3 separate regions of the Homo sapiens genome follow, and all the other regions are reported to be linked to region 1. The links are microRNA targets in miRTarBase. Many come from high-throughput screens and were not tested one by one. Region 1 holds a microRNA gene; each other region holds the end of a gene's coding sequence.

The links. Region 1 holds the annotated microRNA hsa-miR-3663-3p (UGAGCACCACACAGGCCGGGCGC, at 1,694-1,716, opposite strand). A microRNA usually pairs through its seed, bases 2 to 8, with sites in the 3' UTR of a target mRNA and lowers its output. Matches are read on the target gene's strand: a 7mer-m8 pairs with bases 2 to 8, a 7mer-A1 pairs with bases 2 to 7 and ends in A, and an 8mer does both.
Region 2: miRTarBase lists PCBD2 as a target of hsa-miR-3663-3p. The part of its 3' UTR that is shown has no 7-base or 8-base seed match.
Region 3: the mRNA of DIRAS1 is a reported target of hsa-miR-3663-3p. Seed matches in the 3' UTR shown: 8mer at 3,863-3,870.

Annotation. Positions count from the first base shown.
Region 1 is chr10:117,166,002-117,171,073 of GRCh38, forward strand. It overlaps MIR3663 (microRNA 3663), which reads right to left and starts at 1,773; the gene lies at 1,677-1,773. It overlaps MIR3663HG (MIR3663 host gene), which reads right to left and starts at 3,054. Exons shown (of 3, transcript NR_121651.1): 1 at 2,859-3,054. RefSeq lists an enhancer at 1-146.
Region 2 is chr5:134,959,884-134,964,955 of GRCh38, reverse strand. PCBD2 (pterin-4 alpha-carbinolamine dehydratase 2) reads right to left here. Exons shown (of 4, transcript NM_032151.5): 4 at 2,312-4,370. The coding sequence ends at 4,275. Among named protein-coding and RNA genes, the nearest start is that of CATSPER3, 5.5 kb to the left of the region's middle.
Region 3 is chr19:2,712,522-2,717,593 of GRCh38, forward strand. It overlaps DIRAS1 (DIRAS family GTPase 1), which reads right to left. Exons shown (of 2, transcript NM_145173.4): 2 at 2,046-5,072. The coding sequence ends at 4,689. Among named protein-coding and RNA genes, the nearest start is that of DIRAS1, 6.3 kb to the right of the region's middle.

The DNA.
Region 1 (5,072 bases):
CCTCCCTGGGCTGCGCGGGACAGATTTTTTCTCCTTTCCTGGCTACACGCCTAACAGAGAAGCTATCCCGAGGGACCTCAAGAAGTCCCCCCAAGCCGTACTCAAAAGCCTTTCTCCCTCCTCCTCAAGCGCTCACTTCCCCAAAGAGGACCCGGACCCCTGACTGCCTGAGCCAGGTCCCCAGCATGGTCCGCAACCCTTCTCGACTCCGGCATCCACCTCCAGGCTGACGTCTACCCGGGAGGGGGCTGGGGACCCAAGGAGACTTCGACTACAGGCCCAGGCGAACGGAAGGAAGAGGCTTGCGTTCAGAGAGACACGTTTGGAGCTGGGACTGTTCATTCTTTAAGGAACACCAGCTTCCAGGGCATCTTTCGTTGGCACCTTGGCTTTCCAGAGAAGAAAGGAAGTGGGTATCAGGGCCAGCCCCTCCTCGCACCCCAGGCTGGAGAGGTGCCGAGGTGCTTAGTCACTCAGTCCAAGGGCACCTGAGAGATGGGGGCAAACTTGGCAGGAGCTTGAGCACGGAGGCGTGATCCGCGGGGGGCGCAGGCAGGGCGGGGCCCAGAGCCCCCTTCCGCCAGCCCAGCCTGCCCCTTCCAACCCAACTTGTCTGGCACTGGCTTCTACGGGTGCCGAGAAGACTGCTGTCGTGGGCACAGGGTCCTCGACCCCAGGACGTGCGTGGCCTTTCCCACCCCAACCGGATGGTTTGTCCCAGGCTTTGAGACTGAGCTTGATAGAGAGGTAGGAAGGAAGCGGCGCCAGCTCCGGAGCCAGAGTGGGTTGGAGTCCCAGCTTGGCCACCCTCTAGCTGTGTGACCTTGAGTGAGTTACTTCGCCTCTCTGAGCACCAGTTTCTTTGTTTTTTTTTTTTTCAGGAATGGTGTGAGGATTGAGGTAATGTCCTTAGGATGCCCACATGTGTTCAGTCAAGGTCGGTCGTGATGGTTGCCGGCGTCCGCTGCAGGAAAGGCCCCCAGGAATCAGCTTGTAGGGTGGGCGCCAGCCGGTACTGCACAGGGGCATCGCGGCCTCCGGTTTTAGAAGGGGCAGAAACAGCGCAGTGTCCTCAGCCCTGAGGGCTGAGTGTTGGAGGTCCCGACGCTCCTGGGTTCTCTTCTGCCCGGGTGCAGACTACAGCAGGTGCGCAGGGCTTCGCACACCTCTGCTGTGGGAAGTGAGTCATCTTCGCTTATGATTGCATCTGGCCAGGCCAGCTACGAGAACACTGGGCCTCACAGCTGCCACGTATCCAGCCTTAACCTGTGCCAGGCACTGTGCTAAGAGCTATGCACCCACAATCCCACTTCTTCACAACAGCCTCGACCGAAGTAGATGTTTAAGTTTTTAAATTTCCATTTTACAGAGCAGGAAACAGACTCAGAGAGGTTAACTTCCCCCAAGATCACACAGCTGGTAAGTTGGAGAGCGGGGACTTGAACTGAATCTTCCTTGGAGGCCAAGCTCTGAACCACTAAGTTGGGTGGCATTAGAGAGCCAAGCTCTCGCCCTTCGGTTTCCATTCACGCTACCCTCTCTGAGCCGCAATTCTCTCTCCTGCGTTGGCACTGGCAGAAGTTGAGACACGCTCCCAGGAATCGCGGGCCGTGGCGCGTACTTCCACGCACCCCAGCTAGTTCCAGAGACTCAGCTTGTTCTGAGATCCTCTTGTCGAGCCCCCTTGGTCCCGGCGCCCGGCCTGTGTGGTGCTCAGATCAGACTTATCCACCCGAGCACCACGCAGACCAGCGCCTGGACCAAGGTCCCGGGAAGGAAGCCCTCCTCCCCTTCTCCTGTGGCTTAGCTCAGCGATCAGGGAGGAGCCAGTTAAGAAGTCACAGTCGAAGCCATGACTGCTGTGTCCCGGGGAGGCAGTGGAAGGCGAGGAGCACGGAGCGGGGATACCGCCGGACAACCCCTCCCCGCCGCCCCGTCGGCGTCCTCGCTGCGCAGGGGCTCCCTTGCTGCCCCAATCTAAAAGGAAGCCGTCGCGGCCCAGGGCACGGTAACTAAAAGGCCGTCGGGGAGGGAGACGGGAATGAGTGGGCTTGGACTTGAGGTTTCCGAGCCAGCTGCTCCCTAGAGCCGTTCCTGAGCTCGTCAGCCAGCACGTATTTAATGAATGGCCACTGGGTGCTAGGCCTTGCACGCAACCCTTTCGTCCTCCCCCGGGGCTGAGCCGAGGGTGACCCAACACTAGTCGGAACGAGCCTGGAGACATGGCGCCGGGGCTGCGCTCTGCAGGCCTGGCCTGGTCGCTCTCCACGCACCCCTCTCTCTGTAGCTGCCGCCCCGCCCGGCTCTGCCTGTGGGCGCCCCCTGGCGGCAGGAAGCCGAGCGCGCACCACGCCCTCGGGGCTCCATCCCCACTCACCCCGGCGCCTCTAGCCGCTCCACCCGCACCCCCAGTTCGCGCTGCGGCGGCCAGCCTCTTCCCCGACGGCCGACCGAATGTCCCTCAGAGCTTTCCGTGACCGGCCAGGGCGCGTGGCTGTCCGGAGCCCCTCCACGTTCCCCAGCAGCAGGCCCGGCTCTCTCTGATCAGCGAGCGCGGATGCCGGTCTCCTCCCTCCCTCTGCCGGGCTCCAGCCCGACGCCAGGCCGCTGGGGGCAAGCGCTGTGCTTTGGAAGAGGAGAAAAGCCCCAAATAAACAAAAACCCAAAGCCCATTCAAGTTCAGGGGTGGAGAACTGTTGGCATCTGAATTTTAAAAAGATCGCCGGGACTCCCAACCACCACCAAACACCCTCTTGTCCACCCCCCCCCGCCCCCGACACCATCCCACCCCACACACCCCACGCCCGCGTCCCGTGAACCGAACCGCCAATGCGCCGCAACCTTCTCGGCAGTCACACCTGTGTCCCCGATGCCATCTGCCCACGTCTGTGTGTGAAGCAAACCCCGCTGGCAGACGGGATGGAGAGAGATGGCTCCTCCAAACCAGAATTAGGAGGAAAACCCCGCTGAGGGCGTTTCAAAAACCCAACAGGCGAGCGGGGAAACCTGCATTGTCAGACCTGCTGGGCCCTGAGTTCTAGCCCCATGCACCGCGCCGAGCTAATTCTCCCGGCGACTCTCTGAGGGGTTATTACCACGTAATAATTGATGAGGACACTAAGGGCTAAGAGGAGTCAATTAACTTGTCCCTAGTTACAGAGTTGGAAGTCAGGGATGGATCTTAACTGGTGGGGCTGTTCCGAGGGCCTGTGAGAGACTGGGTTTCAGCCCAGAGCCCAACACAGCGCCGGTAGAGAAAGTATCGGGTACATTTTTGCCTGCTAATCCGGCGGTAGGAAGTCAATTACATCTTTGATGACTCAGATTTTTGAAACAGCCCCATACAACTTCCAATTACGGGGGCAAATATAATTGTGAAAGTCTATGGGATTTGGAGATGAAGGAGTAGGCCATCAAAACATAACCCAGAACTTAACTTGTTTTGGAAAAAAACATTTTATGGAAAATTTCCAACATATAGGAAAGAAAAGAGAATATTATAGTGAACTCCCATGCACCTGTCCCCAACCTCCAAATAACGAAGGCAAATCTATTTTATGGTCAATCTATTTCCTCCCCTCCTTCCCACGGACTCTGCCTCCCCAGCTGTCAAAACCTACACACACACTGCTTCCCCTATTCACACAGATTATTTGGAAGTAAAACCTGGACCTTGCCACACTTAATCTGCAAGCATTTCAGCATGTACTGTCAAGAGATGACCACATTACCAAAACTACAATAGCATCAACACAACCACAATACCAAGATATACCCACAAACTTCACATTCCTAAACACCCTGGAGTATCCAGCTGGCTGAAGCTTTATTTTAACCACAATTCCTGGCTAGAGCTTGGTTTTCACTGAGTTTCAGCTCTAGGGCCAGAATGACCTGGGTTTGGATCTTGATTTTTTTTTTTCTTTTCACTTATTAGCTGAATGACTCGGGGGCATGACTTACCTTCTCTCTGAGTGTCAGTTTAGTGCAATCTCACATGGTTGTTACAAAGATAAAAAAACAAAACAATGCATGTAAAGAGTTTGGCATAAGCCAGGGAATAGTATCTGTTATTTCTCCTAAAGCTGGACTTCGGTGAGATTTTAGCTAACGAAGGCTTGAAAATTAGGTTTGAGTTGGGGCATCAGAAGTTTTCACGTTGCATGGAGGGTAAGACTAGAGCCAGGGATGCACCACCACACCCAGTGATCATTCATGAGTTCACCCCTCCCAGGATTAACAACTGAACTCTCAGTGATGTCTTATCTTATAAGGCTCTAGTCTTATCCTCCATGCAATGTGAAACCTTTTCAGGTTCTCCAAGGATCCTCCTAGGTCCGACAGTCATCGTGGGCTTTTCTTGGGGGCAGTGCTGGTCTTTCTCCCCTGTATTCCTGCCTCTAGCATGCGGCTGGGCACACGGGGTCAGTGCTGTCTGCTGAAAGAATGGTTGATGACATCATCCCATCACGTGGCCTTTGCATAGCCAATTCCTTCTGCCTGAGACATTTATGCCTTTTCCCTTAGCTTAATTAACCCTCTCTGAATGGGTCAAATTCCCCTGGCATATGCTCTCAGAGGACCTCAGTGCACTTTCTCTTCAGAGGGTTTATCACTGGTTAAAACGTTAGATTTATTTGTTACTTATTTGTGTGATTACCAGATAGTCTTTCTTCTGTTCTAAACTTCATGAGGGCAGGAATCATGGCTGTTTTCTCATCATTGTATCTTTAGCACTTAATGCAATGGCTAATTGTTGAATGCAAGTGGTTTTTATGGTAGGGGGGAGTAGCTAGATTCAGAAACTGGTTTAACCCTAACCCTCACCCTAATCAGCAGTCATAGTAGCCAATTCACAATGCACTATTTCAATATGTTGTATAGGAAATTAATCTCCAGGCAAACTATTGCGCTACCAGGCAAACTATTCTGGAGGTAATACAATAGAAAGATCTAGTTAAGATACTTGAATCATACAGATTGTTGAATAAATTTTAAACACACAATGAGAAGCAAGAGGAAAGAGATGGGGTAGGTTAACACATATACCACAGAAGCAGGTGGGAAGTCCC
Region 2 (5,072 bases), not on the chromosome of region 1:
TGCTATCTGTGGAGGTCATGCAAGAGGTCAAAGGTCATGTCTGTTTAACTCCTCTCTACTCCAGTGATCTTTTAGAAAGAAAACAGAAGAAAGCCAAAGCTTACCACATCAGAGAAACCACTGTCATCATGCAAAGATTTGGAACAGACAGGAACCTGGGGGCCTCCAATTTTGACAATATCTCTTTCAAATTGAAACGTGAGTTACTTTAAGCAAGTTTGGTGTTTCATTCTGTTGGAATTTACCACCATGAGCATTTCCATAGACTTCGGATACGGGATCTTTGATTCTCTATAGTAAAGTCTGTGAGTTCCAGCAGATGCAGCGACCCATAACATAGACCTATGTCAAACCCTAATGTAGGTGATAACTAGCAACTTCATTCGCAGGTCTTCACCACTGTCATTATGAGCCATATCCTGCTTTCTCCACTGTGCTACACGTGACATATGTTAACACAGCCATCAAGTTTAGCCTCTCAGACTTCTGCTGAAAACAGAGGAAAAGGGTTCCGTTTAGGGTATAGTAAAACAAGTTAAATGACACCACAGGAAGAAACAAACAAATCCAGAAAGCAGAATATTCTACAGCACAACTGACCCAGTTTTTACAATAAATAAATAACATGGGGAACTGAGGAAGGGAGGGGAGCTTGCTCCAGACTGACAGACTAAAGAGACACAACAACCAGATGCGATTGGTGGGCTTCATATAGATCCTCGATTAGAACCAGATTACTGTCCAAGGACATTCATGACCTTCAGGACAATTTGATTTTGCCTAGGTATTAAGTGTACCAAGGAATCACTTTGTTAGGTATAAAAATGGTACTGTGGGCCGGGCGCTGTGGCTTATGCCTATAATCCCAGCACTTTGGGAGGCCTAAGCGGGCGATCACGAGGTCAGGAGCTCGAGACCAGCCTGGCCAACATGGTGAAACCCCATCTCTACTGAAGATACAAAAAAAAATTAGCTGGGCATGGTGGCGCACACCTGTAATCCCAGCTACCCGGGGGGCTGAGGCAGGAGAATCGCCTGAACCTGGGAGGCAGAGGTTGCAGTGAGCCAAGATCACGCCATTGCACTCCAGCCTGGGCGACAGTGTGAGACTCTATCTCAAAAAAAAAAAACAGAGGTACTGTGGTTTATACAAGAAAATGGCCATATTTTCCATAGAAACTTACTGAAGGATATAGGGGTGAAATGATAAGCTATCTGGGATTTGCTTTTAAATACTTTAGCAAAGAAGGAAACAGGGAAAATGAAGCAACTGGGACAAAATCTTGGTAATTTTTATATCTGGGTGATATGTATATAAGGCTTCAATGTACTATTCATGTACTTTTGAATATGTTTAAATTTTTTCATGCTTAAAAAATTCATGTAAATCCAGGTGATGATTCTCAAAAGAAAATTTTAAAGAATTAATGTTGAAAATTGAAGCACTTAACTAAAAATATTTGGTAATAAAATGTATAAAAGTCCCAAATCTACACTATAGGAAACCAGCTTATAAAAACACAGTTTTGTCTTTTCCTTGGGAAGAATTCTAAGAAACAGAAGTTCTAGTGCTAAGAGTCTGGATCCCCTGGCAGCCAGAGAGCCTGAGTGGCTCTTTTCCCTCTTCTCTCCCTGCACACCACATGTCCACAGGGCAACTGACCACACCTGCCTCTCCCTGGCCAGCAAAACCAGCCAGGAACTGGCTTCAGAGAGCTCAGCCTCTGTGCCATGTTCCCATATGTTTCTCAGGTTTGGGGCAAGGGTGACATGGAGAGGGAAAGGTTTGCTTGTTGTAACAAACAGTGATTTCTCTGGCCCCTAAAGAGAGGTGGGTTTACAAAGATGATCCATGTTAAATTCCACTACCATGATGCTTCAAGGGACTAACAAATGCTTCATGGATGGATATACCTGCATCATAATCTCGTTAGTAGTACATTCCTGAATTCCTTCAAAAAACACTCTTATTACAATTTTTAAATAATAGATTACTTGATATTCCTTTTTACATCTGTCAGTGACACATGGAGTAAGTAGAGCTCACTACTGATTAACACCCTTCTAGCTTCTAGCTTCAGTGGCCGTAGACCCTCAGTTCAGGAGTCAAAACATGCAAATGATGGGGGGAAAATGACCCTTAGTTCCTCCTTAACTCAGTAAGTCAAATAATGACTTGGTGAGTTGGCTGCTGTAACAGTAAATCTTATATTGCCACACATTCCTGGAAGCCACAGACAAGACACTTGTCCTCTCCTTCAACTCTCTGTTGAAAGAGAAAAGTAAAGAAAACACACCAAGATAGCTCATCCAATTTTTGTGACTTGTTTAATCTAATTAATTATATAAGTAGTAACGGCAGCTAAAATCCAAATCAACTTTAGCTTCATAAGAATTGTTATAGGCCAGGCGCAGTGGCTCACGCCTGTAATCCCAGCACTTTGGGGGGTCAAGGCAGGAAGATCATTTGAGCCCAGGCATTCAAGACCAGCCTGGGCAACATAGTGAGACTCCATCTTGTATAATTATTAAAAATAAATAAATAAAAATTTTAAAATAATTGTTATGACACAGTGGCTCACACCTGTAATCCCAACATTTTGAGAGGCCAAGGCAGGAGGATTACTCGAGCCCAGAAGTTCTAGACCAGCCATGGCAACATAGTAAGACCCTGTCTCCACAAAAAAGTTTTAAAAATAAGCCAGGTGTGGTGATGCATGCCTGTAACCGCTGCTACTCAGGAGGCTGAGGTGAGAGGATCACTTGAGCCTGAGAAGTCAAGACTACAGTGAGCCATGGTCGCACCACTACACTACTGCCTGGGCAACAGAATGAGACCCCGTGTCAAACACACACACACACACACACACACACACACACACAAACTGTTATACTGGCTGGGGGCAATGGCTCACACCTGTAATCCTTGGACTTTGGGAGGCAGAGGTGGGAGGCTTGCTTGAGCCCAAGAGTTCAAGGCCAGCCTGGGCAAGATGGGAGACCCCATCTCTACAAAAAATTTAAAAATTAGTCAGGCGTGGTGGCACTTGCCTATAGTCCCAGCTACTCTGGAGGCTGAGGAGGGAGAACTGCTTGAGCCCAGGAGGTTAAGGCTGCAATAAACCGTGATCCTGCCACTGCACTCCAGCCTGGGCAGCAGAGCGAGACCCCGTCTCAAACAAAACAAAACAAAAGAAGAATTGTTATTTAAAGTTAAAACTCACTATCTGTCGAGTTCCTAATTCTTTTTCCACCTTACAACTATTCTCCAAAACAATGCATTTGTAGTCACCAGAATTGCTTGAATTTCTGGGTTATAAAATGTGTGAATACTCCCCATCCCAATTTCTTGAATTTAAGAATGCCACTTCTGGCCAAGCGCGGTGGCTCATGCCTGTGATCCCAACACTTTCGGAGGTGGAGGCAGGTGGATCACGAGGTCAGTAGATCGAGACCATCCTGGCCAACATAATGAAACCCCATCTCTACTAAAAATACAAAAATTAGCTAGGCGCAGTGGCACGTGCCTATAGTCCCAGCTACTCGGGAGGCTGTGGCAGGAGAATCATTTGAACCTGGGAGGCAGAGGTTGCAGTGAGCCGAGATCCCGCCACTGCACTCCAGCCTGGTGACAGAGCAAGACTCCGTCTCAAAAAAAAAAAAAAGCCACTTCTCTTTCTGAATATTATTAATATAAGTAACTGGGTTGGTTTATCTTAGGTATATGATTAGATAGCATGAAAAATACCTCAGGTTCCAGTTTAAATCATTGCGTATTTAAGCACTGATTTTACCAAATGTAATATATAAAGGCAAACAATTTACACAACTTAAATTGTTATTTTTCTTTTTTCTTTGCTTCTAGATATGATGCCTTAAGAACAATTCAACAGCCAGGCATGGTGGCTCATGCCTGTAATCCCAGCACTTTGGGAGGCTGAGGCAGGCGGATCACGAGGTCAGGAGTTCGAGACCAGCCTGACCAACGTGGTAAAACCCTGTCTATACTAAAAATACAAAAATTAGCCAGGCGTGGTGACACGTGCTTGTAATCCCAGCTACTCAGGAGGCTGAGGCAGGAGAATCACCTGAACCTGGGAGGCGGAGGTTACAGTGAGCCGAGATCATACCACTGCACTCTGGCCTGGGCGACAGAGCAACACTCTGTCTTAAAAAAAAGAGAAAAAGAACAACTCTATTTGTTCACATAAATTTCCTTCAACATACATTGCAGCTAAGATGTGTACAAGATTTTACATGTATTTTGGAAGAAATCACACAGAAGCAGCTGCTTTTTCAATAAACTTGGCCAGCTTCACATCTTTTTTGGTCAGTTCACCACAGTCATGTGAGGTGAGAGTTATCTGGACCTAAGAAAAAGAAAAGCAGTTTTTAAAACTCTGAGCAGCAAATCATGGTTATTTTCCTTTGGCAGTTCAGAAATCAGTCTATTATTCAACATTCATATTTGAGAATTAGGGGGATTAAATGATTTAGAAAATACTACATTATGAATAAGCAAAACATTTCCAAAACCCAGCGAACTCCAGGGGCATAGTCTACATTAGGCCTGGCTCAACAGCCACCTTGAAATAAAAAGTTCTCTTCCATGAAGAGGCAATGCAGCTGCCAGAATCTCAAATCTTGTTTCTTTAAATAAAAAGAGAGACTGAGGTTCCAATTGAACTCTCGTTACTTTAATTACATCAACTATTTTCAGGCCACTGAGAAAAACCAAGCTATCAAATGTAATATCTTAGCAGCAACGTTTAAAAAGCACATTTTGGCTGGGCATGGTGGCTCACACCTGTAATCTCAGCACTTTGGGAGGCCGGATCACCTGAGTTCAGGAGTTTGAGACCACCCTGGCCAACATGGTGAAACCCCGTATCTACTAAAAATATAAAAGTTACCCTGCACGCCTGTGATCCCAGCTACTCGGGAGGCTGAGGCAGCAGAATCGCTTGAACCCGGGAGGTGGAGGCTGCAGTGAGCTGAGATCGCAGCACTGCACTCCAGCCTGGGCAACAGAGCCAGACTCCAACTCAAAAAAAAAAAAAAAAAAAAAAAAA
Region 3 (5,072 bases), not on the chromosome of region 1:
GCACGATCTCAGCTCACTGCAAGCTCCGCCTCCCGGGTTCAAGTGATCCTCCTGCCTCAGCCTCCCTAGTAGTTGGGATTACAGACTCCCGCCACCACGCCCAGCTAATTTTTTGTATTTTTAGTAGAGACAGGGTTTTGCCATGTGAGCCAGGCTGGTCTCAAACTTCTGGTCTCAGGTAATATGCCCTTCTCGGCCTCCCAAAGTGCTGGGACTACAGGCATGAGCCACCGTGCCCGGCCTGGGTATTTCTTTATAGCATTCCAAGAATGGACTAATACAGTCTCCTCTGCCCCAACGCCACTGGGCCTGCAAGGAAATTGTCCACGTTCACAGAAAGTCCAGCTGGGAGGATGTCCCCAGCTAATGTGCACAGAGTGAATCTGGAAACCAACACCCTAGAAAAAAGCCACATAAAGACATCTCCAAGCAGAGTCCCAGACGGGTCCTGCCTTGCCTCCCCTGCTGCATGTCCTCAACCCACTCCCTCCACCTCCCCACCACCATCCCATCCTTCGCTTCCTACACAGGTCCCCTCCTCCACTCTTCACCCCATCCCTCACTTTCTACACCCACCACCTCCTCCACCCTTCCTCCCATCCCTCACTTCCTCCACCCATCACCTCCTCCATCCTTCATCCCATCCCTCACTTCCTACACCCATCGCCTCCTCCACCCTTCACCCCATACCTCACTTCCTACACCCATCACCTCCTCCACCCTTCACCCCATACCTCACTTCCTACACCCACCACCTCCTCCACCCTTCATCCCATTCCTCACTTCCTACACCCACCACCTCCTCCACCCTTCATCCCATCCCTCACTTCCTACACCCATCACCTCCTCCACCCTTCATCCCATCCGTCACTGTCTACACCGATCACCTCCTCCACCCTTCATCCCATCCCTCACTTCCTACACCCACCACCTCCTCCACCCTTAATGCCATCTCTCACTTCCTACACCCATCACCTCCTCCACCCTTCATCCCATCCATCACTGTCTACACCCATCACCTCCTCCACCCTTCATCCCATCCCTCACTTCCTCCACGCACCACCTCCTCCACCCTTCATCCCATCCCTCACTTCCTACACCCGTCACCTCCTCCACCCTTCATCCCATTCCTCACTTCCTACACCCACCACCTCCTCCACCCTTCATCCCATCCCTCACTTCCTACACCCGTCACCTCCTCCACCCTTCATCCCATCCCTCACTTCCTACACCCACCACCTCCTCCACCCTTCATCCCATCCCTCACTTCCTACACCCGTCACCTCCTCCACCCTTCATCCCATCCCTCACTTCCTACACCCACCACCTCCTCCACCCTTCATCCCATCCCTCACTTCCTACACCCGTCACCTCCTCCACCCTTCATCCCATTCCTCACTTCCTACACCCACCACCTCCTCCACCCTTCATCCCATTCCTCACTTCCTACACCCACCACCTCCTCCACCCTTCATCCCATCCCTCACTTCCTACACCCATCACCTCCTCCACCCTTCATCCCATCCCTCACTTCCTCCACCCACCACCTCCTCCACCCTTCACCCCATCCCTCACTTCCTACACCCATCACCTCCTCCACCCTTCACACCATCCCTCACTTCCTACACCCACCACTTCCTCCACCCTTCATCCCATCCCTCACTTCCTACACCCACCACCTCCTCCACCCTTCACCCCATCCCTCACTTCCTACACCCGTCACCTCCTCCACCCTTCATCCCATCCCTCACTTCCTACACCCACCACCTTCTCAACCCTTCACCCCATCCCTCACTTCCTCCACCCACCACCTCCTCCACCCTTCATCCCATCCCTCACTTCCTACACCCATCACCTCCTCCACCCTTCATCCCATCCCTCACTTCCTACACCCATCACCTCCTCCACCCTTCATCCCATCCCTCACTTCCTACACCCATCACCTCCTTCACCCTTCACCCCATCCTGCACCTCCCCACCCTTCTTGATCCTTTACAGGCGGTGAGCTGACACCCCACGCCCACCACAGAGACAGGGCGCCATGCTGGTGGGGAATGCAGGATCCACTTTTTTATTGCAGGAAGACTATGTCTAGAGCGAAGGCTACACAGACCCCACGATGGGGGAGTGGGGGCACCCACATGCGGGGGGAGAGGGGGCAGGGGCGGAGTCACAGCAAGCATGGCCTGGCACAGTCCCCAGCACCAGGGATGCCCAGGCAGGATGGGCCAGCAGCCAGGACAGGCTCGGGTCCCCTCCTATTGCAGATGCCCTCTCTCCCCAGGGTCGGGCAGGGCCTGAGGTGGGAGAGGCCTGGAGGTGGGCAGGGCCCCAAGGAGATTGTGCTATCAGGGTGTGTCCCTGAGAAAGGGCCGCAGACCCCTGCCCAGCCTCACTCTCTCCGGCACCTTCAGAACCCAGAAGCTACTGCCAGGACAGGAGAGGAGGCAACATCAGCTGCTGGTGGGCCCTGGGCCAGCCCAAGTTTTGGGGGGACCCAGCTCTGCTCAGACACAATGCCAGCTCTTCTGGGAGCCCGGTCCACGTGCTGGATAGCAACACACACGCACGTGTGCACACTCCCTCTCTCTGAGTGTGTCCAATAAACATTTGTTGAGTAAACACTCACACGAACACAGAGGAAAACAAACATGCTTGTACCAAATCAGACACGAGCAATCTGTTACCTACATAGTCCCACCTGGCCACATGACTACAGAGACACATGTGTGCAATCTCTCTCTCTCTCTCACTGCACAAAAGGGCGTGCGCACACACACACGTTGCTTCCTCACACCCAATAAGACCAAAACCTCCATCTCACCTTCCCTCACTAACTTAGCTGCCATGCTCCGAGCCCCGCTGTGGAGAGACCCACATGGTACAGAACAAAGGGCAGCTTCCAGCCAACAGCCAGCGAGGAACTGAGGCCTTCAGTCTTGCAACAGCAAGGAACTGAATGCTGCAACAACCACATGAGCTTCTAAGAAGCAAATCCTTCCCCGATCAGGCCTTCAGATGAGACCTCTGCCTGGCGAATGCTTTGATTGCAGCCTCCTGAGATCCCAAGTAGAGGACCCAGCCAACCTGCACCCAGGCTCTTGACCCACAGAATCTATGAGATAATAAGCATGTGTTGTTTCTGGTTGCTACATTTGTGGTCATTTGTTACACAGCAGTAGCTGACTGATACAGATTTGGAACCGAAAGTCACATTGCTAGAGTCATGTTGCTATAGAGTGGAACACAGATCGTGTCCCTCAATCAGGACAAACATATTTACAGATAAATGCTCTCAGATAAACCATATCACCCACTCCCCAAAATATAGTCATGCTCATACAGGCACAAAGATTCACACAGACACCTCACACATATCCAGTCTTGCTGACAACCACACACAGGTATCTACAACTACCCACCTCTCTGTATACCCTACACCACTATTACACACACAGACTGCCACAAAAACATATCATCCCAGACAGACACACACAGGTATACACGCAGATGCACTTAGATACAAGTCACCCATCCGCGCACCCCAGGTTGCACAAATACACCATTCCATAGCCACTTCCGTGTATGTTGGACACAACCCTGTGGGGTCACACGAGTGTGGTGTCACTCAGACTCTCTCAAAAAACACCCAGAACCTCATGGCTGCAGGTACACTCGACTCCAGGACGCCACCTTCCCGGGCAGGCCCTGCTCTCTGGGGCACAGGTGGTGGGGAGGAAGTGGGTGGGGCAGACCTCTGTCCGGGGCGCCCTCGGATCCTGCTGGTGCTGGCTCCCATCGGCTGTCCCCCCACGGGGGTGTAATTGATGTATCTCTGGCCGGGGCCCCGGGTACCCCCTCCTGAGCACCCCAGGTCCCCACCCGCCATGCGTTGCTAACGTCTCTGTCTTGGTGGAAGAGGCGGGTCCCGGGTGGGCGGTGTCCGGGAAGCCCCTCCACGCCCATGGTGCCTCTCCAGCGGGGCAGTTGTGCTGTGGATGTGGCTGGTCCCGGGGGTGGGATTCGGGGCTGGCAGGGGCACTGCTGCAGGCCCTGTGGTTATTGCCTGGTGGCCTGAGGCCCATCCCACGGGCCCCACACCCCACTGTGAAGACAGAGGAGAGAGGTGCGTCTGGAACCGGAGGAGTGGGCACAGATCAGAGGTCACGACGGGCCGGGTGGGCTTGGGTGTATGTTAACACCAAATAGGAGAAAAAAGAAAAAAATATCTGAGGCCGATGTGCATTTTCAACTCCCCCCTCCCCCAGAAGGTCACAGTGATCAAATGTGAGGGACAGGACGCGCAGGTCTGGCTGGGGACACCCCAGGGAAAGAGATGGAAACGGGGAAACGCAGCCTCCTCTGGTCCTGGTGGGAACAAGCAGCTCCTCTTGCCAGCTCCCCATCCTGTTTTCCCATCTGCAGGACAAGGGGGCCACCTCCGGCTCTTGGTTTTGGAGGGTACAGACAGAACAGGAGGGTGGAGAGAGAGCAGGGGAGGAAGAAAAGCCCCAGCCCTGCCTCGGGGTGGGCAGGGGCAGCGGAGGGGGGGGCGGTGGCCTCGGTTTCCCCAGCCGAGGTGTCGGAGGAAGGATGAGAGAAGAGGAGGAGGCCGAGGAGGGTGTCGGTGTTGGGGGAGGCAGCGGGGGTCAGTGGGGGTGGGCGGCGGGCAGGCGGGCGTTCCGGGCTCACATGAGGGTGCATTTGCCCTTGACGCGGTCTGTCCTCTTCTGCTTCCCGGAGCGCTTGCCGTCGATGTTGAGGCTCATGTTCCGGCGCGTCTCCAGCGTCAGCAGCTCCTGGAAGAGCTCCTTGACGTTGTAGTTCATCTTGGCCGAGGTCTCCATGAAAGCGCACTTCCACTCCTGGGCCACCGCCTGCGCCTCGCGCGTGTCCACCTCCCGCTGCGTCTCATCGCACTTGTTGCCCACGAGCATCACGGGGATGTCCTCCACGCTGCCCTTGATCTGCACGATGAGCTTGTAGATGGGCCCCAGCTCCTCCAGCGACTGCTTGCTGGTGACGGAGAACACCAGGATGAAGGCGTGGCCCTTGGAGATGGACAGGCGCTG